2 linked regions of the Homo sapiens genome follow. The protein of the gene in region 2 purifies or fractionates together with the protein of the main gene of each other region. This does not show direct contact. Each region holds a gene or a part of one and is shown on either strand. Other genes may lie near its edges. The genes, in order: KCNA4 and PCDHGA3.

Evidence for each region.
Region 1: the proteins of PCDHGA3 (region 2) and KCNA4 purify together in Homo sapiens (affinity purification with mass spectrometry; one large-scale study listed by BioGRID and IntAct). This does not show direct contact.

Annotation. Positions count from the first base shown.
Region 1 is NC_000011.10:30,009,196-30,011,928, reverse strand, and holds the end of KCNA4 (potassium voltage-gated channel subfamily A member 4), read left to right. Parts: coding exon 1-1,212; 3' UTR 1,213-2,199; downstream 2,200-2,733. UniProt on the Homo sapiens protein: Voltage-gated potassium channel that mediates transmembrane potassium transport in excitable membranes. Forms tetrameric potassium-selective channels through which potassium ions pass in accordance with their electrochemical gradient.
Region 2 is NC_000005.10:141,342,057-141,345,988, reverse strand, and holds the start of PCDHGA3 (protocadherin gamma-A3 isoform 1 precursor), read right to left. Parts: upstream 2,161-3,932; 5' UTR 1,956-2,160; coding exon 1-1,955. UniProt on the Homo sapiens protein: Potential calcium-dependent cell-adhesion protein. May be involved in the establishment and maintenance of specific neuronal connections in the brain.

The sequences.
Region 1 (2,733 bases), on a different chromosome or scaffold from region 2:
ATCTTCACTGAGGAGGTGAAGTTCTATCAGTTGGGGGAGGAGGCCCTGTTGAAGTTTCGGGAGGACGAGGGCTTTGTGAGAGAAGAGGAAGACAGGGCCCTCCCCGAGAATGAATTTAAAAAGCAGATTTGGCTCCTCTTTGAATATCCAGAGAGCTCCAGTCCTGCAAGGGGCATAGCCATTGTGTCCGTCCTGGTCATCTTAATCTCCATTGTCATCTTTTGCCTGGAAACCTTGCCTGAGTTTAGGGACGACAGGGATCTCGTCATGGCACTGAGTGCTGGCGGGCATGGTGGGTTGTTGAATGATACTTCAGCACCCCATCTGGAGAACTCAGGGCACACAATATTCAATGACCCCTTCTTCATCGTGGAAACAGTCTGTATTGTATGGTTTTCCTTTGAGTTTGTGGTTCGCTGCTTTGCTTGTCCCAGCCAAGCACTCTTCTTCAAAAACATCATGAACATCATTGACATTGTCTCCATTTTGCCTTACTTCATCACACTGGGCACTGACCTGGCCCAGCAACAGGGGGGTGGCAATGGTCAGCAGCAGCAGGCCATGTCCTTTGCCATCCTCAGAATCATTCGTCTGGTCCGAGTATTCCGGATCTTCAAACTCTCCAGGCACTCCAAAGGCCTGCAGATCCTGGGCCACACCCTCAGAGCCAGCATGCGGGAACTGGGCCTTCTGATCTTCTTCCTCTTCATTGGGGTCATCCTCTTTTCTAGTGCTGTGTATTTTGCAGAGGCGGATGAACCTACTACCCATTTCCAAAGCATCCCAGATGCATTTTGGTGGGCTGTGGTGACCATGACAACTGTGGGCTATGGGGACATGAAGCCCATCACTGTAGGGGGCAAGATTGTCGGGTCCCTGTGTGCCATTGCGGGTGTCTTAACCATTGCTTTGCCAGTGCCAGTGATTGTCTCTAACTTTAACTATTTCTACCACAGAGAGACTGAAAATGAGGAACAGACACAGCTAACGCAGAATGCAGTCAGTTGTCCATACCTCCCCTCTAATTTGCTCAAGAAATTTCGGAGCTCTACTTCTTCTTCCCTGGGGGACAAGTCAGAGTATCTAGAGATGGAAGAAGGAGTTAAGGAATCTCTGTGTGCAAAGGAGGAGAAGTGTCAGGGAAAGGGGGATGACAGTGAGACAGATAAAAACAACTGTTCTAATGCAAAGGCTGTGGAGACTGATGTGTGAATCTTTTTCCACCTGCCACTGCTCCCCCCTCAGCATCTCCAAATATATTTATGCATAGAGAGTGCAGTTATGAAAATGAAATATGCAAATGATCCAATGCATACAGTAGTACACTATTTAATGGTTATACATGGCATAATTGTTACTAAACTTGTATTACATATCAAATAAATGATACATCTTGGAGAAGAGGGAGGAATAGGAGCAAATCTATCTTTATATTTTTATTAGAATGCAAGAATTTTGCACATTAACTGGAAAAGATGTTAACAGTAAAGATGGAGAGAGAGAGTGTGTGCGTGTGTGTGTATATGTGTGTGTGTGTGAAGTAAATTGTCAATGTTAGTAATTGTGCAGTGAAGGGAAAAGTTGGCATTTTGAAGTATTTACTATGTAAGAACTAATGAATCTGAGCAGTCATTTATCAGTGCTTTAACAGCATATCGTATGTCTTTGGATTCTGTAGTTGTTTTTTAAAAATTGTAAGAAATACTGTGTAGAGAAAAAAGAAAGTAAATTATTTAATAGACTATAGGTCACAATTTTATCTTGGATTTAATTAAAATTTATTTTTAACTGGAAATTAACTTTTAAAAAGGCTGCAAGGGCCTTTAGAAATTGATTATATTTTGTTATTAATTTTGGGAAGACTTAACAGCAAATGTCTAACATTATAGAATAAGTGAAATTGGAGAATATGTAATAAGTTTTGTTTGCAGGTAACAGGACTGGATTTTTTTTTCTTTGCACTACTTTATATGCTGGAGATTGAGAGAGACTTCAAACTGTGAATGTTTACTAATGTAACAGTTCAATGACAATCATTGGAAGAATGATTTCTTTAGTCTTATTTTATTGTTTTCTTTTCATTGTGTGAGACTAATGATCATGCAGATAACATCACAGGATTCTCTCCTCTTTTAAAATCTAAATAACTGATTGACAAAGGAATTATGAAGTAAAATTTAGCAACTGAATCTTTTGAAATTGGTCTGTTAGAATGATGCTTCTGAAATCATACTATTTTATATATTCTTCTGCCTTTTAACTCCAGAATAATTTAACCAAAGTTAATGCATGCACTGAAAGAATTCTTGAAGAAGATGCCAAGCAGCTACAGTGATTATGGCTTAAAATTTTTCTATTAAATGTGAAACATAAACGCTAGATTTATTAAGTTTATTTTTTTGTGCAGTTATATAAGAACAGAATTTGGGGATTAACCTCAGATTTTAACATTATATTTGCTAAAATGGACATAAGGAAGAATTGTGTCAAACATTTGGTTTCAACATCACCATCATTATTATCTTTATTAAAGGAATTTATGACACATATAACTGCATTTAAGTCATGACAAAGCATTCTAGAATGTGAGATAACAACTAGCGATCAGCCTTGCACTATGAAATCATGAGGTATAGGTTAGAAAACTCAGAATGCATAAGAGGCCTTATTCTACAATGTTTATTTAACTTCTGTTCTTTATAAAATGATTGTCTTGAGCTCTGGTTGGGGGCG
Region 2 (3,932 bases):
GGCTGGCCGTGGTCCTGGACGGCCACCACGAGGCTCTGCTTGAGCGCGTCTCTGTCCAGCAGGGCTCGCGCCGTGCGCACCTCGCCCGTGTGCAGACCCACCGAGAAGAGTCCCGGCTCGCTGGCCTTGAGCAGGCGGTAGGACAGCCAGGCGTTCTGGCCCGAGTCTCTGTCCACCGCCACCACCTTGGTCACCAGGTAGCCGGGCTCTGCGGAGCGAGGCGCCAGCTCCACGCCAGTGGAACCGTCTGTGGGGAGGGCGGGGTACAGGATCTCGGGCGCGTTGTCGTTCTGGTCCAGCACGAACAGGTTCAGCGACACGTTGCTGCTGAGTGGAGGGTTCCCGCTGTCGCTGGCTGTCACCAGTAGCTTTAAGTCTCTAAATTGCTCGTAGTCGAAGGATCTCAGCGCGTATAGGACGCCAGTGTTGGAGTTGATAGAGACGAAGGAGGACAGGGGCGCCCCCTGGAGAGTGTCCTCGGTCAATGCATAAGTGATGCGGGCGTTGTTGTTGCTATCTGGGTCCTGGGCTGTCACTGAGAAGATGGAGGCTCCTCTGGGGTTGTTTTCTGGAATGTAGGCGGAGTAGGATAAATGAGGGAAGGTGGGTGGGTTGTCATTGATGTCAATCACATGCAGGGTGATGTGAGTTTCTGTGGACAGTGGCGGGCTTCCCCCATCTGAGGCTCTCAGACTAATGTTATATTCTGATATTTGTTCGCGGTCCAGGGATGTGGCCGTCACTAAGCGGTAATATTGATCTATTGATTTTTCTAACTTAAATGGCAGATTTCCCAGGACAAAAACTTCAACCTGCCCATTCTGCCCAGAATCTCGGTCATGCACGTCGATAAGAGCAATTTCTCTTCCAACGGTGCCCTCTTCTGGGACTGAGCTTGTGAGAGACGTGATTGTAATTTCTGGAGCATTGTCATTCACATCCAGAACCGTGACTAGAATCTTGGCTCTTGAAAGAAGACCTGGTCCATCCTGTGCTTCAATTTTAATTTCATAGAACATGGCATCCTCATAATCTAGACTTTTTAATATTGATACTTCTCCACTCACTGAGTTAAGATGGAAAATCTCAGCGATTTTCCCAGGCATTTTATCTAGAATATAAGACACTTGAGCATTGAATCCCTCGTCAGGGTCAGTGGCATTCACCGTGAGCAGCCGGGTACCCACAGGCACGTTCTCCCAAACACTCACACGGTACTCAGGCTGAGTAAACATTGGTGGGTTGTCATTTGCATCCAGGACTATCACTTGGATGTGCAAGTTGCCAGAGTGGACAGGGTCGCCACCATCAGAGGCAACCAGGACAAGCTGGTGAATTTCTTTTTTCTCACGGTCCAGGGCCCGCTCCAGCACCAGCTCTGGATACTTGGCCCCCTCAGAGACGCTATTCACAGCCAGAGAGAAGTAGTCATTGGGGCTAAGCTTGTAGTTCTGCAGGGAGTTAATGCCTACATCTGGGTCAAAAGCAGTTTTAATTGGAAATCGGGTTCCAGGAACCGTTAGTTCACCAATTTTTATTTCCAATTCCTCTGTTGGGAAATTAGGAGCATTATCATTAATATCTTTAATTTCTATTTCTACTTCAAAAATTTTCAATTTATCCTCAACCAGAATGTTAATTTTTACCAGACACAGCGGGATCTGAGCGCAGAGCTCCTCCCGGTCTATCCTCTCCGCGGTGACCAAGCTGCCGCTTTGCGGATTCAGAGAGAAAAGCTGCGTCCTACCTCTGGAGACGATGCGGACTCCGCGCTCCGCCAGCTCCCGGGGCTCTAGCCCCAGGTCGTTAGCGATGTTGCCCACGAAGGAACCTTTATCTAGCTCCTCAGACACCGAGTAGCGGATCTGACCGGATCCTGTTTCGCACAGCGTCCCCAGGAGCGCGCACAGCAGGGCCAGTCCTCTGCCATTTCGGAAACTCAGGCAATTGGTCATTTCCTTTTCGGTGAATCGCTTTCTCTGAATTCGGTTCCAGTTTCCTACGACGGACTCCAATCTTATTTTCTCAAGAAACGAAGTCTTTTACGGGCCTAATTCACAGGTCAAACAGCTGGTTGACTAAGAGGTGAGGTTGGCAGCCGCCCCGGATCTTCTGAGTCTGATTTGCTGGTTCTTTGCATTTTAGGAGCAAGGAAATGGTGGACTAGTTCTCCAGCTGCGTTCTCCTTCTTGAGTGGTCAACAGCGACACTAAGAGGCCTAACCGTTTACTGCATCCTCTCAGACACATTATTATTTTTGAATTATCCAAGATCTGAAATCCTTCTTGTCAGAGATAAGAGGACTAGTGTTGATTGAACATAATTGAATCGATATATGTTAAACAGTGTCACCTCAAGTTATCTTTCTTGGGAATCCATGCACTAACCTTAATGCCACCAATATTGCTTCAAACATAGTGGAGTTAACTTTTTTGAATTGTTCAGTTTAAGAAACACACAGTAACAAAGAACTGGCCGTAAGGACCAACACAACTATTAAAAGACATGACCACCACTTGTTCTTCCACCACTGAACCTTGATAATGTGTTTATTCTTATACTTACTACATTTATCAGGGTTATTTGATAAGATATCCACCTCCTCTTTGACCTTTCCCTCTCTATACTCTTAACTCTCTAAGAGCTGAGACAAGGAAAAAAAGAAAAGAAACACACAGAAATCAGCCATATTTATACATTATATTTCTTTAAGTTTGTTCTTGGTGACCTGATAACTTAGTTTCGATATTTGTTGTTATTTAATATTCATTAAACAAACACATAATTAGGCATCAGACAATATGTTTGGGGATTTAAGGTGAACAATATAGACACAGTAGCTTCCTTCACAGAGATTATAAGGATATAAAAGCAAACAGGGAATTGCAGTGTACTGAGATAATTACCATAATGGGAGAAGCCAAGGGGGTTAGGGGGGCCTTCAATTGGGCCTTTAATGTTAGCAAACGCTTTCCCAGGAAACATGAGAGGAGTGGATCAGTGAAAAGGCCTGGATGTGGGAGAGAACAGCATGACAATGCCTAGGTGTGAGAGAGAAATCACAGACCTTCAGGGTACTGAAAGAAGTTTCCTTTGTTTAAATCTAGACTGTAAGGATGTTTTTTCAAAACCAACTGAAACTAGTAGAAATAAGCTTTTATGTTCCAGAATCTCTTTCCCCATAAGTTTCCAAGCACAGAAATATAAATACAATATATTTGTCGTTTCAATCATGATGCATTACATATCTATGCATAAGACATTTATTCTTGTGGAGTTACTACACACACTAAAAATAACTTTGCTTTAATTTTCCTGTTTATACTTTATTATTCACTTACAAGTAAAGCTATTATGACATATTATTCCACAGTGAGTTCCAATTTTACTCATAGACAATTATGTAATAGTAACCAAAACAACACCTTGTCTCAGAAAATTTTTTCTTGATCAAATGCAACGGAAAGAATCACAGCACTTTGAGAAATATGGTATCATTCAATAAAAGGCTCAATTGGTACATGATAATTTTCAAATAAAAATAAAAAATGATGCCAGTTACATAGAACATTAGTGTGCTTATTATTCTCTGTTATTAAATACATAACCAACATACTAAAAGCCAATATAGGAAGAGGAATGGGAAAAGAAAATTGATCAGAGGGGCACTGGGATTGGGTGAGGGATTGGGAACATTTCTAGCAGCTATTGTGAGTAGAAACCTTGAGAAGAGAGATGTATAAAGAAGTTGGTTCTGGGCAATTGTATGATATGAATCTTTTGTATCTTTTCTTTAAGCAAAACTATATTGAGGATATATATTATTTTAAAGATTAAAATACAGTATGGTTCCCACGTATGAGAAAGATAAAAAAAAAGGAGAAACCTGTTTATTACCACTCTACAGCTTTATTATAGAGCAGATGATAAGT